3 separate regions of the Homo sapiens genome follow, and regions 1 and 3 are each linked to region 2. The links come from fine-mapping of genetic effects on gene expression. A gene starts in region 2. Each other region holds a variant in brackets. All regions are shown on one strand. Distances are from middle to middle.

Region 1 (10,316 bases), 100 kb before region 2:
CCTGGGACCTGCTTGAGACCATGCCCCATACACTCCTTCGGCCAGAAGGTCAGCCGTAGAGACAAACCCCCACCCTGAGCCCGCAGTGTCAGCAACGCCCTGTCCTCAGTGCCAGGCAGTGTCAGGCTGAGACCCGGGCCACCTGATCCAACGTCCACTCCAAGCAAGCCAGAGCCAGGTGCTGCCAGCCTGCCCATGTGCACACGTTAGCAGACAGGTTTCCTGGTGTGGCACACACGTGTTATGACCGCGGCTGCTGCCCCCAGCCCAGAGTGCACTTCCGGGTAATCCAGCACCCTGAGGCTTCACTGCTCTCCTGAGAGTTTTCTAAGATTAAATCTCCTTCACAATGACAGCCTCCTGTCACCTGGGCCCTGGTGACAAAGCCTTTGGAGAGGCAAGGACCCAGCCGGGGCATTCACAGTGGGCATGCTATCCACCCTCCGCCCCTGTCCTGGCCCCCACAGTGGAGCCGCCACCTTGGGTAACAGGGGCTGCCTGAGGTCCTGGAGAAGGAAGAACCAGGTGGCCCACCTTCGGTGCACAGGGAACAGCAGGGACCTGACGGCAGCCCCCGCACCCCTCCCTGGGCTGAAGTTCAGGCTGTCTCATCCCTTGCCAGGAGCTCAGGGCTGAGCTAGGTTGGCAGGGGATGGGTTGAGGGTCTGTTGTCCAGCAGATTGCCCGGGCCCCACCCAGGCCACTCAGAAAACACCTGTGAGAGCCCCGCAGGCATGCAGGGCACTGTCGTGAGCACACCAGTGGGGACAGACGTCCAGGCAGGAGGGAGCAGCCAGACCCCCATCCCGCCAGGGTCACCAGGTGAGCAAGGCTGGGGAACAATGGAGGCGGAGCCCCGCGACTGCCCAGCTCACTGCCCCCAGTGTCCAGGCTGTGGTGCAGGCGTGGGGACCCAGGTGTGTTCAGGGGTCTCCTTCAGGGAAGGAGACCAAGCTGGGAGTCTGGGGAGGCTGAGGTGTGAGGTGACAGCAGGTAAAGAGTGAGCCACAATCAGCATTTTCACATGAAAGGAAACTACAGGCCTGGGCGCAGTGGCTCACGCCTGTAATCCCGGCACTGTGGGAGGCTGAGGTGGGAGGATCACCTGAGGTCGGGAGTTCGAGACCAGCCTGACCAACATGGAGAAACCCCATTTCTACTAAAAAAAATACAAAATTAGCTGGGCATGGTGGCGCATGCCTGTAATCCTAGCTATTCGGGAGGCTGAGACAGGAGAATCACTTGAACCCGGGAGGCGGAGGTTATGGAGAGCCAAGATCGCACCACTGCACCCCAGCCTGGGCAACAAGAGTAAAACTCCGTCTCAAAAAAAAAAAAAAAAGAAGAAAGAAAAAGAAAAAAAGAAAGGCAACTACAGAAGGTGAGGAGAACCACCCGAGATCACCAGAGGGAACCGTGGAAGGTCCGTGGTCCACCAGCCAGGCTGGGGCACCTCAGCCCCTGGGCAGAGCACCAAGCAGGGCCGTGCCCTGGTAAAGGAGGGCACAGTCAGCCCCAGACTACAAGCTGCCTTGGTCCTCCCAGCAGGGCTTAAAAGCAAGACCCCAAAGGACCAAACAGCTTCCAAGTAACTTCCTGGAGTCCTGAGCAAAGTAAGCTTTTCTCAGCTTTGCTACAAAAATAGTCAGCACCCAGCAAAATTCACAATCCCTGTCACCCATTCAAAAATCACCAGGCATGCGAGGAAGCAGGAAAAGGAAAATGCACCCAGAAGAGAAGGAGCACCCATCAACGGGGCCGCCTCAGAAGCAACAGACGACCGGGCAAGTCCAAGGGCACCGAGGCACCTGCCACCACTGCGCCCAGCACTCCCGAAGCCAGAGGGCAGGTGGGACATAGGTGGGGACGTTCTGAGCAAAAACGCATGCGGCCAAGCTGGGGTCGCCCGTGGGAAGAGGGCGAAACGCTTGCACGTGGGTAGGGCAGTCTCTGCAAAGGGCTGTGTGGGCTCCGGGACCAGATGCTGTGAGGGCCTCACCAGCTGCGAGGTGGCAGGACCAGATGCTGTAAGGGCCTCACCAGCTGCAAGGTGGCTGTCTCTGCCCCACCCCACACGCTCAATGCATGTTAATTTCATCTTGTTTCATTCTCATTCCCATTTTACAGATTGAGGTTCAGAGAAGTCAGAAGCCTTCCCAAGGCTGCACAGCCAGAAGTGGGCACAGCGTCCTGGGGTGAGGGCTCACACCATCTGCGCCACCTGCCCTCCAGGTCCCACCATCCTCACAAATTCAAGGCAAGGTTCTGGAACCCCCAGCCCTCCAGAAAGGGGAAGCTGAGCCCAGGAAGCACATCTGAGAGTTCGGGTCCGTGAGTTTACCCTGCGCTCACGCCGATTCCTCCTGCATCCTCTGTCGGGATGTCTGGATTCCAGAGTCCCCACCCTGATTTTCCAACCTTGCCTCAGCCTTGGCTTCTCCCTTTTGGGGTGGGACAGGGAACCCCAGCAGCAGGTGTATGAGGGCATGAGAGGGCAGGAGGTGCCCTATGCCTACCCGCCAGACCAGGGCCCCAGCCCTGGACACAGGGAGAGAGCATGAGCGCTGTTCCTGCTCCCACTCCCTCATCTGAGCAGGTGCTCCCAGGTACAGGTGCCGAGTCCCACCCAGAGGGGCCCTGCCACAACCAGAGGACTGACAAACCCAGACACAACTGTCTCTTCCCCCTGGTCAGGGTCTGGGCAAGGGTCCCTCTGGGCTGCTGTCCATGCTGTGAGTGTCCGTGCTGTGGGCCACTGCCGTGGGTGTCCGTGCTGTGGCCTGCTGTCGTGGGTGTCCGTGCTGTGGCCCGGTATGTGAGGTTGTGTTTCCAACAGGGAGTAATTTGGCTTTGGTTACCTGAGGGTCTGAGGACAGGCACTAAAGCCCCACCTTTCTGGCTTCCAGAGTTGCCGGCTCCAGCAGCAGCCTCCAGGCCTGAGCAGGCTCTGGGGCTCCCACACCTGGGGGGCCAGGGTGGGGGTGACAAAGGGCCCCAGGCGACGGCTGAGAGCCGGCCCTGAGCCGGCCAGGGCGGGCAGCAGAACAGCCACCAGCTCCCGCCAGGCCCTGGCAGCATGAGCGATGGCAGGCCCAGCGATAAGAAACTAATAATTTATGCTTCCAGCTCCCGGGGCCGGCGCCGAGGGAAGGTTGGGCCACAGCCTCCCCCGCACTGAGCGGCTGCAGTCCTTTATTGCACAAATTATTAACGACCAGAGAATGAATGACTCTGTAATCAGATCAGGTTGCCAGCACTTTTCATTGCATTTATTTGTATAAATTCTGAAGTCGGGGTCTGCCCTAAGCTCAGCAAGCCAGCGTCGTGCTGGCTGGGCGCCCAGGCCCCCACCCAGAAGGAACACCCGTCCCTCACCCTGCCCACGGGTTCCAGAGGACAGAGGGCTCAGGAAGGGGTGCAGGGAACTGCTCTGAGCCAGAAGCCGAGTTCATAGGCACCCAAAGCAGCCCTGGGCCAGGGTCAGAGCTCTGTCCTTGAACCTGCCTCAGGGAAGATTCCCAACTGTCCTCAGAGCCAGGGGCACCCAGGGCTTGGGAGCTGAAGGGGGGTGGGTCTGAGACCAGGAGAAGGCTCCCCAGCCCTGAGGGAACCCTCATCACCCCCCTGCTCTCCTCGATCCAGGAACCGTCCCAGGGTTGCCCCAGGCCTCCTGGCTCTCCCGCCTCCATCCCGTGGGCTTCCCGGGAGCCCCAGGCTGGTCTCCCACCTGCCCCCTCCTTTTCTGGTCTTGCCTGGGCTGGGCCCAGGGGCTCTGGCTGTGGGTTTTCTGTGCAGCACCTCGCAGTGAGCCTGACGCTGGTCCTCTCCTGAGCCCCCGTTTAATCTTATTGACCTCTCGTTACGCTACAGAGCGTAAATTCAGATTTAGAGATCTTATGTTCCATCATAAATTGGGCTGGCAGACTTCCGATCAACAAGATAAAGCTGTCTTCCGTGAGGCTGGTGTTTTATTAGTCTTGGTCCCAGTGCTGCAGGTGTGGGCTGGGGAGTGCCTGAGGGAGGGGCCTCTGCTTGGGACCCTTCCTGCCTGGGCGAGGGGCTGAGTCCCTCCTGCCGCCCGGGCTGGGCCCCAGGTACCTGGCGAACAAAGGGACCCTGAAATTGCCGCCTTTCCCCTGCCTCTTGGGCTCTGCATATGATTTCAGCCAATCCCTGCTGCCCAGCCTCGCCCACCCGCTTCTGGGGCCACCCCCGCGTTAAGCAGGGCTGTGCAGCATGGGGGTCCTGTTCTCATTCAGCCACCGGCACGGCCACCCCAGTGTGATTCCTCAGCAGCCACACAGAAGACAGATGGTCCATAGGAGACTCAGAAACAGAGAAGCCTCACGCCAGGTCCACAGAGGCACCCACGCCCGCCAAAAGGATGCCAC[G/A]CACTCACCCTGCCCTCTGGGGAGCACAGTGGGAGTCCAGGACACCGCCTTGGATGGGGTGAGGCTCCGTCTGTGACCTCAGAAAGTCAGTCTGGGGCTGGACTTGACATGGGAAACAGAATAAAACTGCCTGTCCACCTGAGCTTGCCGCCCTAAAAATCCCTGACATGATACAGAAGTCAGTGCTGACAGAGGGCCTGCTACCCCCAGTGACCCTGCCGGTGGGGTCTCAACCCACCCACTTCTTCTGGAGCAGCCGGTCACAGCTGTGGTCCTGCTGGCGCACACGGGTATGAGACCCTAAAACACACAGCGACTGCACAGTGCAACCCTGCATATCCCATTTGGGTACAAGTTTCATTACAGGAAGAAACACGGGGAGGGACCCCAGAGCAGCTCACGCGTGGGTACCCTCCGCTGTGTTAGCGTCCCGGCCCTCACACGGCACCCAGGCCTCGTTGGGGCAAGGCCTTGTGCAGACACGGTGGGATCTGCATGTGCACTGGGGCCTGTGCCTGGGCTGCTGCTCCCCGGCCACCGGTGTCAGGATCTCCAGGACCCCCATGAGTGGTCAGTGGAGCAGAGATGGCACAGACGCCAGCGACCTGGGTCATTCTCTACCTGGGATGTGGGACCCCAGAGACCATGCTGTGGGTCTTTATCTGCCTCTTCATGCAGGAGCAGGTGCGACCCCCGCCTGCCCCAGCCATGAGGCTCTGTCACAGGGGACCTCTGTGGCACCCTGTGCTGCAGGCAAGGCCTTAGGACAGATGCCACGCCACTGTCCAGGAGACTGTCTCCTGAGACTGACCTCCCCTTGCACTGGGCAATGTCTGCTGAAGATAAGGACGTCTTCACTGGGCCAGGCCTGGAGTTCTCCCAGATCGTGAGCTTTCCTCTCTCTGATGAAGAGGATACCTGTGGTCAAACTCCTACAGAGCACTGGGGACAGGAAGGCAGGCAGAGTCCCACCTGGGCAGGTGGTAGGAGTGGAAGGAGCAGGCAGGCAGCAGGGCTGCCCAGGGCTAGGAGTCTGGCTGTGAGCAGGGCCCACCCTCCCCTGGACACAATGGAGGACCCCGTGTGTGGTTTTCACTGACTGAGCACCTATCTCGTGCCAGACATGTGGGATTGCCGGTGAATTAACAAAAGCCCTGCTCTCAGGGGGCTCCCATCCCAGCACATACACCGTCACATCTGGGGTCCAGCCTGGACCCCCCCATGCAGTTGGAGAGGGTCTCAGAACCAGGTCTGAGAACAGCAACTTCCAGCCACGGCACCCCACCCCTCCCCAGCTGGCCTGGGCTCCAGCTCCTCGCACCTGAGGCTGCCTGTGCAGGGCCCCCGGCTGGTGCCCCTCTCCTCTGAAGCTCGGGGGTCGCCACAGCCTGGCACCCTCATCGGGCCTGTTACGCACGTTCTGGTCTCTCCGTGCCCACAGACCCGCCAAGCTCACCAGCCAATGTGCAGCCAGCACAAGCCCGACCTGCTAGGGGCCTCAGAACAAGCGGTGTGGCCCGAGGCCGTCACACAGCACCTGTGCTGAGAGTGAGCTGACGTGGACGGCGGCACCGTGGCCGTGGCAGAGGCACCATCCCTCCACCCTCACTCATGTAGGGATGTGGGGCACACGGACTGGAGCCCAAGGCCTTCGTGCTGGGCCCTGGCTCTGCACTCGGCTCCCAGAGTCTCCCACCCAATGTCAGAGAGGGTGCCGCAACAGTGCTTCGGGGGCTCCTGTCATGAGGGCTGAGGACCACCTAGGCCCACGTCCGCCCAGCAGGTGGCAGCTGCATCCCCGGTCCCCTCCACAACCCGGGCCAGGTCCAGGCTGCAGGCCGCAGTGTTGGCAGGGGGAGGAGAGGGTGAAATTGGCTGAGCCCATCCATTGGGACAGACCCTCCCGCTCCTTGGGGCTCTGGAGAACTCTATTCCTTCTCTTTGCTTAACCTCAAGGTGCTGGGGCCTCTGGCTGCTGCAGCATTTACAGAGGAATTGTCTGGGATGTGCCGGGCCGAGCACTGTAGCTCTCGCCGGTGTCTGCGTCAGCACGCTAGTGACATGGCAGGTGAGGACCACGGCACCGCCCCTGCGATCTGGCAGTCAGAGCCCACCTGTGTGTCTGCAGGAGCATCCCTGACTACACACCACGGGACGGCAGGGAAGGGTCCCTCGGGCCCCACCCCTTTGTTCTTTCAATGGTAAAGGTTCAGGTCGGTGGACAGACTGGACTTGGAAACACCTTCTTGCGTCCTCGAAACGACGTGGCACGCAGCCAGCTCACAGCACCCAAAGGCACGGGCAAGTTGCATCACGGCAGCCCCTCCTGTCTGACCAGGAGCAGGTGCGTTCCTGAGGTCCTGGCCACTTCTGCAGGAGCGTCCGAGGGAGCCCAGCTGATATACCACAGCCCCTGACCTCCCAGGTTAGCCTTTCCATCCAACAGCACCAGGACTGGACAGGCCACCTTGGCTGAGGATCACGTGTGCCTGGGTCTGGGCGGTGCTGATGCCCACAGGCCCTGAGTCTGTGTTGCGCACAGGCCTTGGAAAGCAGTGCACATCCTGTCTGCACCGGTGTCTATAGTGAAGCCATCTTTGTCCGTGTGGCCATGGGAGGGTCTGTCTGTGCTGTGTGTGTGTCCTGCGCGCGTCGGGAGCTGCTGCGCCACACACAGGCACGCAGGGTGTGGGCACACCTGTGCTTCTGAGCCCACGTGCCCTTGCCGGTGGCCAGGCACACACACAGCTGTGCATCCTTGGCCCAAGATCAGCTGTGCCACACCTGCAGGCTGCAGGATCTTTTCTGTATATCTCCCTCCATCACCAGAAGTAAGCTCAGGACTGAGGCTGACAGGCTGGTCTGAGCGCTGCTCACCTGCACCTCCTGGCTGCACCTGTGGCCCCGGACTCAGCTTCCCCATCTCTCTCCTCCCCACCCCACCTCTGGGTCATCTCCGGCTGGGGCTGTACCACATCTGGGCTCAATAAATGGTTGATTGATTGATGAGGGGATGGATGAGAAGGGCTCTAAGAGAAATGCTGGGGAGCCTGGGCAGGCACTCCCGGATGGCGGAGGCGGCATGCGGGCTGGGGCAGCGGCCCCTGGCGCCCCCACACTCCCCCAGGACGTCTGGGGTCACCGTCTGCTCCATGGCAGCCCCAGGGTTATTTATGACCTCCTCCCTCTGGCGGCGGGAGGCAGGCTCCAGCCTCAGCCCAGCGGCGGAGGGGCCCCAGCAGGGGGACCCGGAGCAGCGACAGAGGCACCAAGGCCCAGGCAGGCGGGGCTCGGTGGGCCGGAGGAGGGGCGGTGGAGTCCACACCGCCAGGTCCCTGCCTCGCTCAGGATGATTCCAGCGCCAGAACTCCGTTCCTCTGGCCTCTGCCGCCAGCCTGAGGAGTGCAGGGGAGAGTGGGGCCCAGGTGTCCCAGACCAAGACAGGTGTGTGAGTGGACATGGGACACAGGTGTGGTAGTGGAGGACACGTGTGAGCAAGTGAACACATCACACAGATGTGCGAGCAGACACAAGACATGGGACACAGGTGCGCCAGTGAACACGGGACTGGTGTAAGCCAGCGGGCATGAGACACGGGTGTGAGCGAGTGGACACGGGACACGTGTGAGTGGGCACGGACAGTACAGGTGTGAGCGAGTGGACACGAGACACAGGTGTGGGAGTGGACACAGGTGTGTGGGAGTGGACACAGAACAGGTGTGAACATGGACACGGACACGGGTGTGTGTGAGTGGACAGGACCAAGGAAGGGGCACAACCCCGTGGAAAAGGGTGATGCTGGGGGTGAGGAGCCTGGTCCTGTGGGAACGTGGCCTCTGAACGGGTGCCTGCTTCCCAGGAAGACAAGGAGGTGGTGGGGAAGGCCTCCTCACCCAGCCCCTGGAGGGACCTCCAGAACATCAGGGAGTGGACAGTGAGGATAGAGGGGTGCCTCCAGCTTTGGACCCAGTCAGGGTCTTTTCTGGAAGACACCATGGGCCCCGGGTAGGCCCCCACACCCAGCCAGAAACCCAGGGCCAGCCCCATGCCCCTCCTTAACCACACTGTGGGCCTGAGCATGATGAGATGCTGGTGAACAGGGGAGGGCTCTTGGAAGGGAAAGGAGGCCCCTCTGCTGGCCCAGGTCAGAGGAGAGGCCTGGCCCAAGGGCCTCAGACCCTGAGAGGCACTGCCATGCAGACCTGCGCCTCCCCAGCCTCCCTCTCCAAATCACTGTGTGAACATCAGGGAGTCAGGTGCAGGCGAACCTAGAAGGAGGGTCAGGTGCAGGTGAACCTAGTAGCCCACACACGGGCAGTAGGGTCAGGGCTGCATCCAGACAGTGGGCACTCAGGGCCAGTCCACATGGCCTCCAGCTGGCCCCAGGAGCAGACTTTCCACATGGTATCAGACCTGGGAGAAGACACAGACTTCAGGAGAGGAAGGCACAGGAACTCACTGGCAGCCACAGCTGGGGTCAGGGATGTGCTGGTGTCCTGGATGCAGACAGGTTGATAGGGCCAAGGGTGGCCACATAAGGAAGGGTCACCGACACTCACACCCACACTCCTACCTGGCCCCCCAGACCCCAACAGACCAACGAGCCCCCACAGAACAGGGCCAGGATAGCGGGGGAGGCTTCTGGGCATGTTCCTTGCCTGAGCAGAGCACTCCTGGCCCAGACCTCACTCCGCGGGTTGGCTGTGGGACCAGCAGAAGCCTCTGGTGAGATAAGGTGAAGGAGCCCAGCGTGGTCACCCAGGGTCAGGTTTATGCTCAAGGAAGCTGGTCTGGCAGGAGGTGGTGGTGGGCTGTTCCCTCCCTCGAAGAAGGCACCTGTGCAAACAGGCCTGTGGCCCACTCACCCCTGGACCTGCTCTGGGAGATGCCCACAGGGACATGCCAGCTGCATCTCAAGGGCAGGGGCCAGGGTCAGAACAGGAGGCCCCTTTCTAGTGGATGCAACACCGCACAGCAGCGCAGGACAAGGCTGTCTCACCTGCTGTTACCAACGCCCCCAGGTTGTGTTTCTCTTCGGAACGCTCCAGATGCAATGCCGATCTGGGCACGCAGGGAGGTGGGGGGTGATGGGAAGCTCACCAGGAACCAGGGACTGGGGCCCAGACTGACCTGTCAGAAGGCACCAAGGTGGACGTGGTGTGGCCGGTCCTGCTTCACTAGCCTTGCTCCTCCTAGTGGGAGGCCGTGCACTCTGCCAACCCGCTATCCCCCACCCTCACCCTGCCTCGGATCCACACCACCTTCCTGCTGGGAGGTGTGGGGTGACAGGAAGCTCTTGCCCCACACCATGGTCCTGGCGCGGTCCTGGTGTGAGACATCCTGCATTTGAAACAGCTGTGTGACTTCAGGAGAGTTACTTGACCTTTCTGTCTCAGCGTCTTCTGCAAAAGACTGAACAGGAACTCCGTGGCTCGGGCGAACTCACTCCTGTCAAGTGCATAGGAAGGGGCACGAGTGGGCGGGGAGGTGCTGCCCTGTTATTCACAGAACACTTTGCCCAGGCAACACACTACAAATCCACAACCTCGCTCCCTGCAGGTGCACTGAGACCACCCACGCCCTCCCGGACACCAACGCCCACCATCAGATTCGCTGCGCAAAGTCCCAGAGCCGCCGGCGCACGCTCACACCCCGGCGAGCAGCCCCCAGCTCCCTCCCTCCGAGAGGAGCCCGGTCCGCGACCAGCCCAGCCCATCCCAGTCCCGCGCGGAGTCCTGGATTCCAGCCGCTCGCAGTGACTCGGTACTCGGGATAGTGCCGGGGGCCGCAGCCCTGTCCCGCTGCCGCCGCCGGATGCCCCGAGTCGGCCGTCACGCACCCCCCGCGGGAGCCCGCGCCGCCCGCCGCGCCGGGGCCGTTTAAATGGGCCAAGTTGTGGCGGCGGCGTCGGCGGCGGAGTCTCCC
Region 2 (10,316 bases):
GTCCGGACTCTGGGCACTTGGGCCTCAGCTTTCAGAGCCCTCGGGAGGATCCGGCTGGAGACACAGAGTCCCCCCTGGTCTGTGGGGGTCCATATCCAGGTGGGGAGACCCCCATCTGGCTGCACCAGGACCACTGTGTGTGCCCGCATGTGCCCAGCAGGGGGTGTCCTGGCTCCAGCCTTGTGTCCGGGTCCCCACCTCACCCCTGTGTCACAATGGGCGAGTGAAGCACTTAGCCAGGGGCCTTTCCTGAACCCCCAACGGGGGCAGGGCAGGGCAGGGCCTCCTTTGTGGCTTCTGGCTCAGAGATCTGTAGCTAGCCTGGGGTGAGAGGGGCACCACAGGCCCAGTCCTTTTTATTATTATTTTTTTTGACACGGAGTCTCGCTTTGTCGCCCAGGCTGGAGTGCAGTGGCGCGATCTCTGCTCACTGCAAGCTCCACCTCCCGGGTTCACGCCATTCTCCTGCCTCAGCCTCCCGAGTAGCTGGGACTACAGGCGCCCGCCACCACGCCCGGCTAATTTTTTTTTGTATTTTCAGTAGAGGCGGGGTTTCACCGTGTTAGCCAGGATGGTCTCGATCTCCTGACCTCGTGATCCGCCCATCTCGGCCTCCCAAAGTGCTGGGATTACAGGCGTGAGCCACCGCACCCGTGCTTTTTTTTTTTTTTTTGAGATAGAGTCTCACTCTGTCGCTCAGGCTGGAGTGCAGTGGCGCCATCTCGGTTCACTGCAACCTCCACCTCCCGGGTTCAAGCAATTCTCCTGCCTCAGCCTCCCAAGTAGTTGGGATTAATGGTGCCCGCCACCTCACCCAGCTAACTTTTTTTTGTGTTTTTAGTAGAGACAGCGTTTCACTGTATTGGCCAGGCTAGTCTCGAATTCCTGACCTCATGATCCGCCCGCTTCAGCCTTCCAAAGTGCTAGGGTTACAAGTGTGAGCCCCCGCACCCGGCCTAATTTTTGTATTTTTAGTAGAGATGGGGTTTCATCATGTTGGCCAGGCTGGTCTTGAACTCCTGGCCTCAAGTGGTCCGCCTGCCTCGGGCTCCCAAAATGCTGGGATTACAGGTGTGAACCACTGGGCCTGACTGACCCAGTCCTTTTTTTAAAAAAATTACTTACTTTTCCCAGGGTCATACTCTCAGCTAGGCTGGAGTGCAGTGGCACAATCACCGCTCACCGCAGCCTCCACCTCCCACACTCAAGTGATCCTCCCGCCTCAGCCTCCCGAGGAGCTGGGATTACAGGTGCGTGTCACCACACCTGGCTAATTTTGTATTTGTTTTGTTTTGTGTTTCTTTGAGATGGAGTTTCGCTCTGTCGCCCAGGCTGGAGTGCAGTGGTGTGATCTCGGCTCACTGCAAGCTCCACCTCCTGAGTTCAAGCGATTCTCCTGCCTCAGCCTCCTGACTGGCTGGGATTACAGGTGCGTGTCACCCGGCTAATTTTTTAGTAGAGGCAGTTTCACCATGTTGGTCAGGCTGGTCCCGAACTCCTGACCTTGTGATCCACTCCCCCCTTGGCTGCCCAAAGTGCTGGGATCACAAGCGTGAGTTACCGTGCCCTGTCTGTATTTATAGTAGAGACAGAGTTTCACCATGTTGGCCAGGCTGGTCTCGAACTACTGACCTCAAGTGATCCGCCCACCTCGGCCTCCCAAAGTGCTGGGATTACAGGCCTGAGCCACCACGCCCGGCCCGTCGACTAATTTTTTTTTTTTGAAACAGTCTCGCTCTGTCACCCAGGCTGGAGTGCAGTTGCACTGTGTCCAGAATTGGTGGGTTCTTGGTCTCACTGACTTCAAGAATGAAGCCACGGACCCTCGCGGTGAGTGTTACAGCTCTTAAGTCGGCGCGTCTTCAGTTCGTTCCTTCTGATGTTCGGATATGTTCGGAGTTTCTTCCTTCTGGTGGGTTCGTGGTCTCGCTGGCTCAGGAGTGAAGCTGCAGACCTTGGCGGCGAGTGTTACAGCTCTTAAGGCAGCGCGTCTGGATTTTTTGTTCCTCCCGGTGGGCTCGTGGTCTCGCTGGTTTCAGGAGTGAAGCTGCAGACCTTGGCGGTGAGTGTTACAGCTCATAAAAGCAGTGTGAACCCAAAAAGTGAGCAGTAGCAAGATTTATTGCAAAGAGCGAAAGAACAAAGCCTCCACTGTGTGGAAGGGGACCTGACCGGGTTGCCACTGCTAGCACCGGCAGCCTGCTTTTATTCTCTTATCTGGCCCCACCCACATCCTGCTGATGGGTAGAGCCTAGTGGTCTGTTTTGACAGGGCGCTGATTGGTGCATTTACAATCCCTGAGCTAGACACAAAGGTTCTCCACGTCCCCACCAGATTAGTTAGATACAGAGTATCCACACAAAGGTTCTCCAAGGCCCCACCAGAGTAGCTAGATACAGAGTCCACTGGCACATTCACAAACCCTGAGCTAGACACAGGGCGCTGATTGGTGTATTTACAAACCTTGAGCTAGATACAGAGTGCCGATTGGTGTATTTACAATCCCTGAGCTAGACATAAATGTTCTCCAAGGTCTCACCAGAGTAGCTAGATACAGAGTGTCCACTGGCGCATTCACAAACCCTGAGCTAGACACAGGGTGCTGATTGGTGTATTTACAAACCTTGAGCTAGATACAGAGTGCCGATTGGTGTATTTACAATCCCTGAGCTAGACATAAAGGTTCTCCAAGGCCCCACCAGAGTAGCTAGATACAGAGTGTCTGTCTATTGGTGCATTCACAGACTCTGAGCTAGACACAGGGTGCTGATTGGTGTATTTACAATCCCTGAGCTAGACATAAAGGTTCTCCACGTCTCCACCACTCAGGAGCCCAGCTGGCTTCACCCAGTGGATCCCGCACTGGGGCTGCAAGTGGAGCTGCCTGCCAGTCCTGCGCTGTGCACCCGCACTCCTCAGCCCTTGGGTGGTCATGGGACTAGGCACGGTGGAGCAGGGGGCAGCGCTCATCGGGGAGGCTTGGGCCGCACAGGAGCCCACGGAGGGGGTGGGAGGCTCAGGCATGGTGGGCTGCAGGTCCCCAGCTCTGCCCCGCCGGAAGGCAGCTAAGGCCTGGCGAGTAATCGAGTGCAGCGCCAGTGGGCTGGCACTGCTGGGGGACCCACTACACCCTCCGCAGCCGCTGGCCCGGGTGCTAAGCCCCTCATTGCTCCGGGCCGGCAGGGCCGGCCGGCTGCTCCAAGTGCGGGGCCCACCAAGCCCACGCCCACTCGGAACTCCAGCTGGCCCGCAAGAGCCGCGCGCAGCCCCGGTTCCCGCTCATGCCTCTCCCTCCACACCTCCCTGCAAGCTGAGGGAGCCGGCTCCCGCCTTGGCCAGCCCAGAAAGGGGCTCCCACAGTGCAGCGGTGGGCTGAAGGGCTCCTCAAGTGCCACCAAAGTGGGAGCCCAGGCAGAGGAGGCGTGAAGACCGAGAGAGGGCTGTGAGGACTGCCAGCACGCTGTCACCTCTCAGCACCATCTCAGCTCACTGCAACCTCCGCCTCCTGGGTTCAAGCGATTCTCCTGCCTCAGCCTCCCAAGTAGCTAGGACTACAGGCGCCTGCCACCACACCGGCCAATTTTTGTATTTTTAGTAGAGACGGGGTTTCACCATGTTGGCCAGGCTGGTCTCGAACTCCTGACCTCCCGTGATCCACCTGCCTCAGCCTCCCAAAGTGCTGGGATTACAGGCGTGAGCCACTGCGCCCGGCCCATCCAGCTAATTTTTAATTTTTTTGAGAGATGGGGTCTTGCTATTTTGCCCAGGCTAGTCTCGAACACCCGGTGTCAAGAGATCTTGCTGCCTCCGCCTCCCAGAGTGCTGGGATGACAGGCGTGAGTCACCACGCCCAGCCTAGACACAGTTCTGAAGGGACAAAGGGGGCCTCCGCTCCCTCCTTTCAATCTTCAGCTAGGCCAGGCTCCCACTTGGGTCCTCCAGCCCTCAGTTTCCCCCTGCACCCAGCCAGGCCAAGCTGCAGAGGCGCCCGGCCCAGAGCTGGGAAGGGGCGTGGCGGGACCCGCGCTTGCAGCCGCGGGACGGAAGGGGGCGCGAACCTCCCCGCGGCGGGGCCTGGGGGGGCGGGGCCGGGAGGGGCGGGGCCGCGCCCCGTGCTGGCCAATCAGCGCCCGCCCCGGCACCGGGACCCGCCTCCGCGCCGCAGCTCCCGGGGGGTCCGGCCCGGCCGAGCCTCGGTGTCCGGCCCCGCGGGGGAGGGGCGCGGCCTGCGGAGCGGGATCGGGGCCGGGTCTGGGGCCCCTCCCGGCGGCCTTCGAGCCCTGCCGCCCGGCTCCGCGCCGCCCGGAGCCCCTCGGCAGTCCCGTCACGTCTCCTCCAGATTAGGCATTAACTCGGGTGCAGCCGCACTTCCGGGGGGCCGCGGCGGGGGAGGGGCGCCTGCGGGATCCAGACCCGCCCCCCACTCTCCTCTCCCCGCCCCCTCCCGGGCCGCCCCTTTCCCGCCCCACGGCCGCGCCGGGCGCTGCGTCCCGGGGCTTTGTTCGCGGCGGCGCGGGTCGCCGGCCTCCGGGCGGGCCGGGGGAGGGAGGAGGGAGGGGGCGGGAGGGGGAAGGAAGGAGGAGGGGGAGGAGGAGGGCGCGGGGAGGGGGTAGGGGGGCGGGGAGGAGAGAGGGGGAGGGGCGCCGCCCTGGCCCCGCCCCCCCCCGCCCGCCCGCCCGCGCTCCGCCGCCTCCGGAGCTGCGTCCCGTCCTGTCCAGTCCCGTCCCCGGCGCGGCCCGCGCGCTCCTCCGCCGCCTCTCGCCTGCGCCATGGCCGGCCGGTCCCACCCGGGCCCGCTGCGGCCGCTGCTGCCGCTCCTTGTGGTGGCCGCGTGCGTCCTGCCCGGAGCCGGCGGGACATGCCCGGAGCGCGCGCTGGAGCGGCGCGAGGAGGAGGCGAACGTGGTGCTCACCGGGACGGTGGAGGAGATCCTCAACGTGGACCCGGTGCAGCACACGTACTCCTGCAAGGTGCGCCCACCCGGACCCCGGCCTCCCCTCGCGACGCCTGCCGCCCCGCCGGGACCCCCGCCCCAGGCCGTGGGAACCAGCCCCGGTCGCTCCGCAGCCCCCGCTCCGGCTCCCTTGGCGACCGCCAAGCCCCGGGAGGGGGGGTCGCCGGGTCCCGGGAAACTCGCGGGCGCCGGGGAAAGTTGCTGCGCCGCCGCCGTCCTCCGCCCGCCGCCGCCTCCCTCCTCGCGGAGACAAGTGCACCTCGCCCACGGACTGCGGCTGCCGCGCGCCCTCCCTACCGGCCGAGAAGGAGAGGGGCCTGGGGAGGGGGGGCCTTTGCCCGGGCGGGGAGCGGGGGCTGGGCCTGGGATCCGCTTGTTCCCCTCCCCAGAGGCCTTTCCCGGGGCGAGAGGGGTTGGTCAGGAGAGAAAAAGGGGCGCACAGCCTGAGCTCCCAACCCCGGGAGCCAGGTGGGGGGTGCCGCAGTGGTGCGGGGGGGGGGCGTGCAGGAGCAGAGAGGTGGGCGGGGCCGTCACCGGGCCTCGTGTGCTTGGGGGCAGGGCCGGTGCCCCATCGCGCTCCTGCGGGAACCGGGGCTCCCCACCCCGGGGAGGGGAAGTTTCCCTGGTTTCTCCTTCAGGTGCTTCTGGGAGCCCCCGGGGTAGGTACGCTGGGACCCCCACCATCTTCTCCTAGTAGGGGCTCGGGGGACCCAGAGCCGGCGCCCGTGTACCCCCAAAACCATCTCCTGGGACCAGAAATCCACTCATTTCCCTCCACGGAGGTGGAGAAGGTGGCAGCTTCTTTCAGACTGGCCGGTGCGGGCTACAGCTGGGCTCCCCCGCCGGCCCAGTCTCCTCCACAGCGGCCAGGGCACTTTGCCAGGCCCCTGCAGGATTTTCCCGACTTCCTCCCCGCTGCTCCTGGGTGTGGCTGGGGTGGGGGAAGGCGATGAAAGCCACCAGGCCCTCCCCCTGCCTGGGTCATCTGCCTCCTGGAGCCTACTGTTGGGGGGCGTGGAAGAGGCTCTGCCTGCGCAACTGGAGGGGGTCCCTGCGGATGCCGCAGTCCTGAGGCTCCCAGCAGGGGCTGCGCAGTGGACAGGCCAACCATTGTCTCTCCCCCCATCCGGCAGCCCCAGCCCCCCAGATCTGAGGAAGGGGCTGCTTCTCCCGGCTTTGTTCTCAGGGGAGTGCGTGAGTGCGTGGGTCCCTGTCCCCGTGAGGGCCGCCAGGTCGGCTGTAGCCTTTACCACAGGCCACCGTCAGAGCAGCTGCCCTCAGGGCCCCAGGAGCTGAGAAGGTGGAGGGTGGGGCACCCTGCACTGCCCAAACTTGATTTCGTGGTTCACAGGCTGCCCTGAGTGCACAGACTGTAGAAGCCCGAGGAAGGGGCGTCTCAGCCCAGCCACAGGGCCAAGCTGGCCCCTTACCCCAACGCCCCATCCCCCTCCTCCACTGCCCAAGCTTGCTGGGAGGTGGGCCCTGAGCACTGGGCAGGTGGGGAGAAGTGTGGAAGGCAGGCACCCCAAGCCAGGTGGGCCCCCTTCCCAAATTCGGCCTTAGCTGATAGGGACGTTATTGGAGCTGGGGTGGCTGAAGTTGGTTAGACCTGGGGGAGGGGATGTGTTCACAGGTGACGCATCTCTGAGCGTTCCCGCATGGGCTGTGGTGGCCAGTGTGGGCTTCCCCCAGCTTCCGCCCAGCGGGCTGACTCAGAGGTCTCCCCACATCTCTGCCCAGGGCTTGAGTCTACTGTGGACATTTGCCCTAAACACCTAAAGCCCCCAGTCTAGCCCCTTCCCCAGGAGAGGACTAATGACACCTACCGCCATGTCCACCCCAGGTTCGGGTCTGGCGGTACTTGAAGGGCAAAGACCTGGTGGCCCGGGAGAGCCTGCTGGACGGCGGCAACAAGGTGGTGATCAGCGGCTTTGGAGACCCCCTCATCTGTGACAACCAGGTGTCCACTGGGGACACCAGGATCTTCTTTGTGAACCCTGCACCCCCATACCTGTGGCCAGCCCACAAGAACGAGCTGATGCTCAACTCCAGCCTCATGCGGATCACCCTGCGGAACCTGGAGGAGGTGGAGTTCTGTGTGGAAGGTGCGTGGTGGGGGGCTCGTGTGGGGGCCTGTGGGGGTCAGGGCAGTGGCCAAGGGGGACAGGTTGCAGGGGTCGCTGTGCGGGGTCCTTTCGTGCTGTGCCGGAGGCTGCAGCACACGGTGTCTTGTGGTCCAACCTCATTCTCTGCTTCTCCGTCCCTGGCTCCCCAGCTGCATCTCCAAGCCCTCACATTAGACATCTTTGGCCCTGGGGCCCAAGGCAAGTCCCAGCCCTGCAAACAGATGGCCTCCTGCCTCCTCCCCTCCTCCCAGCTCTCCATACTTCCTTCTGGAGGCCCCTTCTAGGGAGAAGCTGGACAGGTGAATGTCCCCAGCTGTTCAAGCCCCTGTGTTAGCCCAGACCTCCGTCTAGACGGGCCCGCGTGTCGAGCACTCCTCGCCGTGGAGATCGGGCGGGAGGGCGAGGCTGTGCGGCGAGGGCTTCTGCGGATGTGGAGGGTGTGGCATTTGCCATCGTGAGGTCTTGCTTGCTGTTCCCATGGCTCTGCCGAAGGGCCGAGGAGTGGCCCTCCCTGACCCCAGCCTGGTGGGGGCAGAAATCCCATGGCAGCCCCCGCAGGACAAGTCCCAGTTGGGGACTGAGATCGTTGGCTGGGGAATGTGGCAGGGAAAATATAGGAGGTCCCTGTCGCCCCCACATCCTGTCTGCTCCCTCATGGCTGCCTGGGAAGGGATGTGTCGGTGGGGGGGTCTGGAGAGTGCTTCCTCCTCAAGGCAACGGTAAGGGTCCTGACTTCCCGTCTCTCCGATCTGCTCCGTTGGCCGGCAGGAAACTTTGCTGCCCTGACACTAGCCTGGCTCTTGAGGGGTCCTTGTGGGGTCCTGGACTGTCCACTGCTCTTGCCTTCTCTGTGCATGCCTGGGGGCTATGCAGGGGGAGGGGCAGCACCCAAAATAAGGAACGCTGCGGCCTTTTCCCCAGCCTGTGGTCAGTGGTCCCCAAGCTGCCTTCAGGGTCCAGGGCCTCAGTGCAGCACAGAGGAGGGTCCCCTGGGTCCCCCACTGGGAGGACATGATAACCTTGGTCCTCTTCTGGGCACTCATGGTCTGGGGAAAAGATGGGGGCATCGTGGACTCAGGATAGGCTGTCAGGAGCTGAGGAGGGGCTGGAGAAGGGGGTTAGGGCGAGGAGAGGTTCCTGTCCCTGCAAGATCAGGAGAGGGGGTCACTAACCCCACAGCCAGGTGGGTCCAGCCCGAGAGTCCGTGACTTAGTAGCTGAGGACTTGCTCTAGGGTCAGAGGGCACATGGCAGGAGAGTCACCCCGGCTGAACGAGGCTCTGCATCTTACCGAAGCCGCTCTACGGGTGCCAGGCACTGGCTCTGGAGCGAGTGCCCAGGCGGAGCAGAGCGCTGGGAGGAGGGTCCGTGGGGAGCCCCTGCCAGGTGGGTGTGGCTTAGCCCAGCTGTGGGCAGTCGCACTCAGGGACGAGCTCCAGGTGGGGAGCCTGGGACCCACAGCCAGTATGCAGCTTGGGGAGCACCCGGGAGGGGCTGTGGCCACCGGACCCCCTGGGGTGGGGCTGGCCAGGGGAGGGTTAGCCAGGGAGGACTGTCATGGGAGGGGCCTTGCAGGTGAGCCAGGGGCCAAGGGGAGCCTCAGGAGGGAAACAGCATGAGGAGTGGGGGAGCCCAGGAGCTTCCGGTGGGACATGTGGAGCTCTGCTGTGGAAGTAGACCAGGGATATCTCGGGTGGCTGGGGTCCCTGGCTGCCGGGACAGGGTAAATGCCTCCCAGAAGCCTGGGGTGAGCCCTGAGGGACAAGGTCTCTGGAGCCAGTCTGGCTGGAGAAGGGACAATTCTGTGTGCCCACCCCTCCCCTCACACTGGGTGGTGTGGGAGGTGGGTCCATCTCCTGCTCTGTAGGAGATAAGGACATTGAACCCCACCCTGGGCCCTCTGGTAGCCAAGGCCTCACCCTAGTGAGGGGGATGGATGGAGGGAGCTTGAGCCTAGCTGACCTCTCCCCATCTGACTCCGACCCCACCTCCCAGGGCACAGGATGGCGTCTGGGCAGCCCCTAGTCTTCAGAAGCTACCCCTGAGACCACAGGGTCCCACCTTGTATGGGAACCCCATCCTGGAGACAAAGGCCCCTCCGAGCTCCCCAGGTCGGGGAGGGCCACGCCCCTCACCACCCCTGCCCGGACACCGCCTGAGGTGCACCTGCTGCTGGGCCACACCTGGACTCAGCTCTACTGAGGACTTCCTTTCCTCAGTTTCTCACCTGGCCCTGCCAGATCTTCCTGGCCCTGCCCAGCCAAGGCCCCTCCCCCAGTCAACAACCCTCAGAAAGGCTCCTCCCCCCTTCTCTGCCTAGGGAGCCACATTCCTGGCATAACTAAGACAGGTATGTGTCCCTCCCTCTGCGCCACCTTTGGGCGGGGGAGGCCCGCTGCTCCCTCCGGAAGGAGACCCCCGCCCCTGCTTTGTCAGGGAAGTGGCCTGGCCTCCGCAGTGCCAGCTGCCCAGGGCTGGCGGCTGAGCGGGCGACTCCTCCGGCCCTCGCCACCCTGTCCTGTCTGGGCACTGCCCATGCCCTCCCAGCCCACCTCACAAAGGCTGGTCCTAGAGCCTCCCTGAAGCCCCCAGGAGGGACTCCTGGCTGAGGGCCGGCCAGGCCGCCCGGGGCCCATCCCTCCCTGCTAGGAGCCAGGAGCAGAGAAAGGGAGTGTTGTCTGCCCCTGCCGGGGCCTGGCACAGGGACAGGGCAGGGGGCCAGGGTCAGAGTGAGTCTGGCGCCTTCCCAGCCCGGCCCTGCCCAGCTCTGAAGCCCGGGGTCCCGGCGGCCTAGTCCCGGGCCCGCCTGTATTCCGGCGTGTGCACCCTCCCTTCCTCCCTGCCTGGCCAGCTGCCTAGGCCTCAGGACGGCAGTCCTAGGGGAAGCCCAGAGTCCCACGGCACCGGGGACAGCATCGGTGCTGGGGTTGAGGGGCCCGACAGCCCCAGACCAGGCTCCCCTCAGTGTGGGGCAGTCTAGGAGTTGGGGGAGGTTTCTGGGATGCAGGAGGACCTCCCATAGGGCTGGGGCCAGCCCCCTCTCCTGCCCAGGGCTCAGCTCCTGCCCCCAACTCCTCCGCATTCCTGCCACCCTCTCCTGCCCCCTCCTGACTCCAGGTTCTCATCCTGCCCCCTGGTTCCCCCACCCCCACCCCATGAGCCCCTCTCTGGCCCTCCCCCAGGCAGGTCTGGGCTCGAGGCTGCTGCCCCAATCTCCCTCCTGCAGCTGGGAGGGGG
Region 3 (8,889 bases), 29 kb after region 2:
CTGAGAGGCAGCGTGAACCATGCGGGGCCCCACCGTGTGGGCACTTTCTCTGCATACGTCCATCCGGTCGATGTATCACATCAATTAGGTAAAAGTGGTGCCCGGTGTGTGTGATGCGCGTGCACAGATGTGTGTCTGCAGAGGGGCGTTAACTGTACGGTTTGGAGGAATGTGGGTGAGAACGCATGCTGACGTCTTCAGATGTCTGTTTCTCGATTTGCAAGGAAGCTCGCGTGTGTGTGTGCACAGAGCTGCGTGTCCGTGATCTTTGGATGCTCTGTGTGTTGTGTGTTCCTGGATCTGCATTTACAGACATGTTCTTGCGTAAGATGTGGGAGCCTCACCTGTGTCCTCAGCCCCAGGCTCCCGGGCTCCTCTGGGAGCTGGGATCGGGACGGCTGAGTGGTGACAGTGGGGGTAGGTGGAGGCAGACTGGCTGGGTCCAGGGTGGGTGTCCAGCACTGCATGAAATCTGAGTCCCGTACCCTTTCCTGCAGGCCCCACCTTCGCCCCGCTGCCGCCTGTGGCCCCCTTACACTGTGCCCAGACGCCCTACGGCTGCTGCCAGGACAATATCACCGCAGCCCGGGGCGTGGGCCTGGCTGGCTGCCCCAGTGAGTACCTGAGCTCAGCCCCGACCCCGGGCCTGGTGCGGCTGTGCGGCCACGTGACCTTGTCCTGCCCTGGCCTTTCAGGTGCCTGCCAGTGCAACCCCCATGGCTCTTACGGCGGCACCTGTGACCCAGCCACAGGCCAGTGCTCCTGCCGCCCAGGTGTGGGGGGCCTCAGGTGTGACCGCTGTGAGCCTGGCTTCTGGAACTTTCGAGGCATCGTCACCGATGGCCGGAGTGGCTGTACACGTGAGTGACAGGGCCCAGGACTGGCCACCGGCTATGCCCTCCTACCTGTTCACCCCCATCACTGTGCTTCTCCTCACCTGCCCAGGCCCTGGCCTGACCCACACCTGGCTGGGGGCTGGGCAGAGCCAGGGTTGGGGACCAGGCTCTGGAGGAGGTGGGGAAGCCCGTCCAGGTGCGGACATCACGTTCCTCCCCGATTTTCCCCAAAGCCTGCAGCTGTGATCCCCAAGGCGCCGTGCGGGATGACTGTGAGCAGATGACGGGGCTGTGCTCGTGTAAGCCCGGGGTGGCTGGACCCAAGTGTGGGCAGTGTCCAGACGGCCGTGCCCTGGGCCCCGCGGGCTGTGAAGCTGGTGAGTGAGGGCCAGCGCTACCCTGGGGCTTCATGGGGTGGGGTGGGGTCACCCGAGCCACAGAGGTTTCCCATGCCCGTGCCCCAGACGCTTCTGCGCCTGCGACCTGTGCGGAGATGCGCTGTGAGTTCGGTGCGCGGTGCGTGGAGGAGTCTGGCTCAGCCCACTGTGTCTGCCCGATGCTCACCTGTCCAGAGGCCAACGCTACCAAGGTGAGGGGTGTGGGATGTGAAGGGGAGTGGGGAGGAGGCCTCGCCTTGAACATCCTTGTTCTCTGCCCCAGGTCTGTGGGTCAGATGGAGTCACATACGGCAACGAGTGTCAGCTGAAGACCATCGCCTGCCGCCAGGGCCTGCAAATCTCTATCCAGAGCCTGGGCCCGTGCCAGGGTGAGGCCTGACGGCCACTGCCCCAGAACTGACCAGGAAGGCCTGACGCTGCCCTAAATCCAGCCCCACCCGCCCTGAGCCACCTGACCCTGTCCCAACCGGTCCCCCCGCCAACCTCCCTCTCCTTGCAGAGGCTGTTGCTCCCAGCACTCACCCGACATCTGCCTCCGTGACTGTGACCACCCCAGGGCTCCTCCTGAGCCAGGCACTGCCGGCCCCCCCCGGCGCCCTCCCCCTGGCTCCCAGCAGTACCGCACACAGCCAGACCACCCCTCCGCCCTCATCACGACCTCGGACCACTGCCAGCGTCCCCAGGACCACCGTGTGGCCCGTGCTGACGGTGCCCCCCACGGCACCCTCCCCTGCACCCAGCCTGGTGGCGTCCGCCTTTGGTGAATCTGGCAGCACTGATGGAAGCAGCGATGAGGAACTGAGCGGGGACCAGGAGGCCAGTGGGGGTGGCTCTGGGGGTGAGCAGGGATCAAGGACTTGGGGTGGGTGGGCAGGCGCCGAGAGGCTCCACCAGAGCCTGGGCTCAGAGCGCGTCTCCCCAGGGCTCGAGCCCTTGGAGGGCAGCAGCGTGGCCACCCCTGGGCCACCTGTCGAGAGGGCTTCCTGCTACAACTCCGCGTTGGGCTGCTGCTCTGATGGGAAGACGCCCTCGCTGGACGCAGAGGGCTCCAACTGCCCCGGTGAGTGGACGGCTGGGCGAGGGGAGTGTGAGGATAGCCTGGGCTCGGCCGAGGTGCTGCCCCCTCGCCTGGGCAGCAGGTCAGTGCCGGGGGTTATGGTCTTGGGACTCGGCCCCCTCAAACATGTGCGTGCCGGGGACCCCACGCCTAACCCGTCTCTCTCGTTGCAAGCCGGTGTGGCACACTGCTCTGAGGAGTCCTCCTGGTAACCGACACCAGCCCCACCCTGGGGTCCCCACTAACCTCATGACCATCTGACTAACATCCACCTTCCCTTGCACCCTTGTGGCTTGCTGCTGGGGCCTGTGCCTGGGCCAGCCTGGATGCCAGGCAGATGCCAGGCAGGGCCTCACTGTACCTCCCCCACAGCCACCAAGGTGTTCCAGGGCGTCCTGGAGCTGGAGGGCGTCGAGGGCCAGGAGCTGTTCTACACGCCCGAGATGGCTGACCCCAAGTCAGAACTGTTCGGGGAGACAGCCAGGAGCATTGAGAGCACCGTAAGACGGGGGCGCAGCCCCCACCTACCCACTGGCCTTCCTCCCCAGATACCCAGAGCAGCACCAGGGCAGCCCGGCTTGGGCGGCCCCCCAAGTCCTTGCCTACTCCCTGCCACAGCTGGACGACCTCTTCCGGAATTCAGACGTCAAGAAGGATTTTCGGAGTGTCCGCTTGCGGGACCTGGGGCCCGGCAAATCCGTCCGCGCCATTGTGGATGTGCACTTTGACCCCAGTGAGACCTGCACCCTGGACCCTTCCTGGGAGGCAATGGGTGGGGGATGCCTGGGGCTCTGCCATGCTCAGAGCTCCCTCCTCCCCAGCCACAGCCTTCAGGGCACCCGACGTGGCCCGGGCCCTGCTCCGGCAGATCCAGGTGTCCAGGCGCCGGTCCTTGGGGGTGAGGCGGCCGCTGCAGGAGCACGTGCGATTTATGGACTTTGGTGAGCGCCAGGCCACGAGCCACAGCTTACCTGCCCCCTCCTCTGCCCATGCCCCTGCCCCTCACCCCTTCCTGGCCCTGCTCCCAGGAAACCCTAACAGCTCCCTGTGCCGGCAGACTGGTTTCCTGCGTTTATCACGGGGGCCACGTCAGGAGCCATTGCTGCGGGAGCCACGGCCAGAGCCACCACTGCATCGCGCCTGCCGTCCTCTGCTGTGACCCCTCGGGCCCCGCACCCCAGTCACACAAGCCAGCCCGTTGCCAAGACCACGGCAGCCCCCACCACACGTCGGCCCCCCACCACTGCCCCCAGCCGTGTGCCCGGACGTCGGCCCCCGGCCCCCCAGCAGCCTCCAAAGCCCTGTGACTCACAGCCCTGCTTCCACGGGGGGACCTGCCAGGACTGGGCATTGGGCGGGGGCTTCACCTGCAGCTGCCCGGCAGGCAGGGGAGGCGCCGTCTGTGAGAAGGGTAAGGATGTCCACTGCAGAGGAGGGCGGGGAGGCAGCAGGGTGGGGGCAAGGATTGGGGGTGGGGCTAAGCCACCATCAGGCTTTGAGTTGGGGGCAGGAGCCCGGATTAAGGCGGGGTTTCGGCCAGATGCGGTGGCTCACGCCTGTAATCCCAGCACTTTGGGAGGCCGAGGCAGGCGGATCACCTGAGGTCGGGAGTTCGAGACCAGCCTGACCAACATGGAGACACTCTGTCTCTACTAAAAATACAAAATTAGCCGGGCGTGGTGGTGGGCGCCTGTAATCCCACCTCGTGAGGCTGAGGCAGGAGAATCGCTTGAACCTGGCAGGCGGAGGTTGCGGTGAGCCAGGATCGCGCCACTGCACTCCAGCCGGGGCAAAAAGAGCAAAACTCCGTCTCAAAAAAAAAAAAAAAAAAAAAAGCAGGGGGCGGTTTCAGGGATAAAAGTGGGGAATCCTCGGAGCTTTTCCAGCCGGCCCTCCCGGTCGCCCTTTGCAGTGCTTGGCGCCCCTGTGCCGGCCTTCGAGGGCCGCTCCTTCCTGGCCTTCCCCACTCTCCGCGCCTACCACACGCTGCGCCTGGCACTGGAATTCCGGGCGCTGGAGCCTCAGGGGCTGCTGCTGTACAATGGCAACGCCCGGGGCAAGGACTTCCTGGCATTGGCGCTGCTAGATGGCCGCGTGCAGCTCAGGTGGGCGGGGAGGGGACGGGGCCGGGGCAGCTCAGGTGGGCGGGGAGGGGACG[GGC/G]GGGGGAGGGGGGGCCGGGGCAGCTCAGGTGGGTGGGGTGGGGACGGGGGCGGGGCAGCTCAGGTAGGCGGGGTGGGGACGGGGCCGGGCGATGGTCCTGAGCACCTGCTCCTGCCCTCAGGTTTGACACAGGTTCGGGGCCGGCGGTGCTGACCAGTGCCGTGCCGGTAGAGCCGGGCCAGTGGCACCGCCTGGAGCTGTCCCGGCACTGGCGCCGGGGCACCCTCTCGGTGGATGGTGAGACCCCTGTTCTGGGCGAGAGTCCCAGTGGCACCGACGGCCTCAACCTGGACACAGACCTCTTTGTGGGCGGCGTACCCGAGGACCAGGCTGCCGTGTGAGTCCCTTGGAGGGTGGTGTGGCCCCGACCCCGGCCCTTTGGGGTCCCGGTGTACGAGGTGGCTTTGCCTGTGGCCCCTGAGCCCTGACCCGGTGTCCCTCCTGGTGGCAGGGCGCTGGAGCGGACCTTCGTGGGCGCCGGCCTGAGGGGGTGCATCCGTTTGCTGGACGTCAACAACCAGCGCCTGGAGCTTGGCATTGGGCCGGGGGCTGCCACCCGAGGCTCTGGCGTGGGCGAGTGCGGGGACCACCCCTGCCTGCCCAACCCCTGCCATGGCGGGGCCCCATGCCAGAACCTGGAGGCTGGAAGGTTCCATTGCCAGTGCCCGCCCGGCCGCGTCGGTGAGGGTGGGGCCGGGGCGGGTGGGAGTGGGACCCCGGGGCCTGTGGGCGGTACCCAACCGACGCCTCCTGGGACCTCGGTCCCGGTCCCGTCTTCCTCCATCCAGGACCAACCTGTGCCGATGAGAAGAGCCCCTGCCAGCCCAACCCCTGCCATGGGGCGGCGCCCTGCCGTGTGCTGCCCGAGGGTGGTGCTCAGTGCGAGTGCCCCCTGGGGCGTGAGGGCACCTTCTGCCAGACAGGTCGGGGGCGTGGGGCTCTCGGGGCAGGGGGGGGGGGGGGGTTGAACGTTTGGGCGGGTACAGGTTCCAGGTAGCATTGCAGTTAGGATGCGGCTCAGTCTAGTCTGGGTTTTGAGTTAGGATCCACACACGGCTGGCATGGGGTGCAGGAGGCCCCGGGGGTCAGGACTGAGGCCTTGGTGACTCTCCCTACAGCCTCGGGGCAGGACGGCTCTGGGCCCTTCCTGGCTGACTTCAACGGCTTCTCCCACCTGGAGCTGAGAGGCCTGCACACCTTTGCACGGGACCTGGGGTCGGTGGGGCAGGAGCAGGGGGAAGGGCCGGCCCCCACCTCCGTCTCTCCTGTGGGGAGGGGACAGCAAAGACACCCCGACTCCCCATGACCCCAGGGAGAAGATGGCGCTGGAGGTCGTGTTCCTGGCACGAGGCCCCAGCGGCCTCCTGCTCTACAACGGGCAGAAGACGGACGGCAAGGGGGACTTCGTGTCGCTGGCACTGCGGGACCGCCGCCTGGAGTTCCGCTACGACCTGGGCAAGGGGGCAGCGGTCATCAGGTGGGCCGGCAAGGGTGGCTCTGGGAGGCCTGGGGCACTGGCCCGGGGCCGGGGCACCAGCAGGTCGCTCAGGCCCTGGGTGGTCGCGTGGCCGGTGGTGGACAGAGCCCACTCACGCTGCCCCTCCTCACCAGGAGCAGGGAGCCAGTCACCCTGGGAGCCTGGACCAGGGTCTCACTGGAGCGAAACGGCCGCAAGGGTGCCCTGCGTGTGGGCGACGGCCCCCGTGTGTTGGGGGAGTCCCCGGTGAGTGCTCTGGGCCGCGAGGGGACTCCCGCTGCTGCCTGCTCTTCCTCCTCGGGCGGCAGCCCCGCCCCTGCCGGCGCTCACGGAGCTGTTTTTCTGTCCTGTTCTCTTGGCCGCCTGCCCTGTCCTCTGCCTCCTCTGCCTCCCTGCTCTCTGCTCTCGCTCTGCAACCCCACCCGCTCTTCGGAGGCCAGAAATCCCGCAAGGTACTGTCGGCCTCTCATCCGCTCACCGTCTCTGGCGCCTCAACCCCTAGGGTAGCTCCTCCCCCACTAAGGACCCTGCCATTTCTGTGTGATTAACGCTGCCCCCTAGATAGGCAATGGGCGGGTGGGGCGGGTGCGTGCAGGTGCCTGGGCCCTGGGTCTGCACCGTGGGTGGGCTCTGCACAGCCACTTACCTGGCGTCCCCGCAGGTTCCGCACACCGTCCTCAACCTGAAGGAGCCGCTCTACGTAGGGGGCGCTCCCGACTTCAGCAAGCTGGCCCGTGCTGCTGCCGTGTCCTCTGGCTTCGACGGTGCCATCCAGCTGGTATGTGGGGGCGGGGCGTCCCAGCAGGGCCTCCGGGGCGGGCGGGGTGGCAGGCGGGACAAGGCCCTCACCCTGCCCTGCAGGTCTCCCTCGGAGGCCGCCAGCTGCTGACCCCGGAGCACGTGCTGCGGCAGGTGGACGTCACGTCCTTTGCAGGTCACCCCTGCACCCGGGCCTCAGGCCACCCCTGCCTCAATGGGGCCTCCTGCGTCCCGAGGGAGGCTGCCTATGTGTGCCTGTGTCCCGGGGGATTCTCAGGACCGCACTGCGAGAAGGGTGAGCCTGGCACAGGGCAGGGGGCGGAGGCCGGATGGGCCCGGAGCCCACGAGGCCCCACCCTCACCTGCCTATCTCACAGGGCTGGTGGAGAAGTCAGCGGGGGACGTGGATACCTTGGCCTTTGACGGGCGGACCTTTGTCGAGTACCTCAACGCTGTGACCGAGAGGTAACGTGCCATCCTCTGCTGGCTGTCGGTTCCATCTGTGCCCTCGGGGCGGGACACCGGACCCCCACACCAGGAGGGCCCAGGAGGGGACGGCCCGGTGCTGCCACCTCTGTCCTCCCGCCTCTCTCTCACCTCCCGGTCCTCCCGCCTCTCACTGTCTGTCTCTTTGTTTCCAAGCGAACTGGCCAATGAGATCCCCGTGTGAGTAGAGCTCGGCGCCCCCCGCTCCCTCTCACTCCCACTCCTCCATCCTTCCTGGTGGGGAGCAGAGTCCGGAGCCCCCGGGGAACTTTCCATCCCTTGTGGCGGAGGATGGGGGTCCGGCGCTATTTGGCTGCAAGAGGCCGTTTCCTGCCTCAGAAGTGCAGTCGCCCCTCCCAGGGCACAGGCCGAGGGTCGCCCCACAGCCAACCCCCACCACTGAGGCTGTACACACCTGTGCGCATATGCATGCATGTCTGTGTCCGTGTGCACTTCCGCGTGTGTGAACATGCAGCTGTGTCTGTGCGTGTCTATGTATATGGAGTGGATGTGCAAGTGTGTGTGAATATCCAGCTGTGTGTGTGCATGGGTCCATGTATATGTGTGTGTGTATATGTGGGGGGGACATGTAGATATGCGTGTGTGACTATGCGGCCGTGTGTGTGCATGGCTCCATGTATGTGTGTGTATATGAGGGAGACATGCAGGTATGTGTCCGTGTGTGTGTGTGTGCATATGGGTCCATGTATGTGTGTGTATATGAGGGAGACACGCAGGTGTGTGTCTGAGTGTGTGCGCACATGGGTCCATGTATGTGTGTGTATAGGTGAGGGAGACATGCATGTGTGTGTCCGTGTGTGTGCATGGGTCCATGTGTGTATAGTGTGTACACATGGGTCCATGTATGTGTGTGTATATGAGGGAGACACGCAGGTGTGTGTCCGAGTGTGTGTGCATGGGTCCATGTGTGTATAGTGTGTGCACATGGGTCCATGTATGTGTGTGTATATGAGGGAGACACGCAGGTGTGTGTCCGAGTGTGTGTCCATGGGTCCATGTATGTGTGTGTATATGTGGGGGAGACAGGTGTGTGTCCGAGTGTGTGCATGGGTCCGTGTATATGCGTGTATATATGGGGGGATATGTAGATGTGTGTGTGTATGAACAGGTGTAAGTGGGGAGCACTCAGGTGTGTCTGTGTGTGTTCGTGTACACGTGTGTATGTGTGTGAACATGGAGGGGTGTGTGTGTCCGTGTGTAGGTTTGCGTGCATGCACACATGCATGTGTGTACTGGGGCATCCAAGCCCCTGGTCTCCACTCCATACCACCCTACGCCTACCTCCTTGATCTCTGCGCCCAGCCTTGGCTGTGCTCCCCTGCTGTCTGCACGTGGGTGTCTGCACGTGGGTGTCTGCATGTGGGTGTCTGTGCCCTCAAGTGTCTCGTGTCTGCACGTGGGTGTCTGCACCCTCACGTGTCTCGTGTCCGCACAAGCATGTGTAGGTGTCCCTGCTGGGCTCTTTGGTGGGCGGCCAGTGATCCTCGAGGTCACGCATGTCTTCTGTGGGTGCCTGCTCCTTGCACCCCACAGTGTTGAGATGGGTTTGCATTGGCCCCGCCTGTCCCCTGCTCACCCGCCTCCCTCTCTTCCTGCTTCTAAGCCCCGAAACTCTGGATTCCGGGGCCCTTCACAGGTGAGCACGTGGCAGCAGTGCCTGCAGACCCCTGGCTGGCCCATCTGTCCTCCCGCCCG

The links. PIP is the estimated chance that this variant, and not a neighbour inherited with it, causes the effect.
Region 1: its variant is fine-mapped to the expression of AGRN in whole blood (TOPMed, PIP above 0.99).
Region 3: its variant is fine-mapped to the expression of AGRN in whole blood (INTERVAL, PIP 0.98).

What each region holds. Positions count from the first base shown.
Region 1 is chr1:913,623-923,938 of GRCh38, forward strand. LINC02593 (long intergenic non-protein coding RNA 2593) reads right to left here and starts at 6,070. Exons shown (of 4, transcript NR_122045.1): 1 at 5,713-6,070; 2 at 5,203-5,293; 3 at 4,400-4,493; 4 at 3,196-4,098. It overlaps LOC284600 (a long non-coding RNA gene), which reads left to right. Exons shown (of 5, transcript XR_007065342.1): 2 at 1-1,849; 3 at 2,128-2,327; 4 at 4,260-4,449; 5 at 6,348-7,397. LOC107985728 (collagen alpha-1(III) chain-like) reads right to left here. Exons shown (of 5, transcript NR_168405.1): 2 at 9,653-9,839; 3 at 9,391-9,521; 4 at 9,050-9,113; 5 at 6,621-8,887. SAMD11 (sterile alpha motif domain containing 11) reads left to right here and starts at 10,301. Exons shown (of 14, transcript NM_001385641.1): 1 at 10,301-10,316. RefSeq lists enhancers at 1-69, 6,568-7,504, 9,346-9,924. The variant G/A (reference allele first, on the strand shown) is at 4,392.
Region 2 is chr1:1,015,404-1,025,719 of GRCh38, forward strand. It overlaps AGRN (agrin), which reads left to right and starts at 4,717. Exons shown (of 36, transcript NM_198576.4): 1 at 4,717-4,970; 2 at 6,798-7,059. The coding sequence starts at 4,770. RefSeq lists silencers at 133-353, 4,031-4,480 and enhancers at 5,989-7,188, 8,373-9,349, 9,350-10,316.
Region 3 is chr1:1,044,664-1,053,552 of GRCh38, forward strand. AGRN (agrin) reads left to right here. Exons shown (of 36, transcript NM_198576.4): 13 at 498-614; 14 at 696-860; 15 at 1,070-1,213; 16 at 1,301-1,425; 17 at 1,497-1,602; 18 at 1,734-2,072; 19 at 2,157-2,294; 20 at 2,664-2,791; 21 at 2,910-3,024; 22 at 3,113-3,232; 23 at 3,349-3,702; 24 at 4,204-4,396; 25 at 4,573-4,788; 26 at 4,903-5,132; 7 more. Among named protein-coding and RNA genes, the nearest start is that of RNF223, 25 kb to the right of the region's middle. RefSeq lists a silencer at 6,028-6,127. The variant GGC/G (reference allele first, on the strand shown) is at 4,450.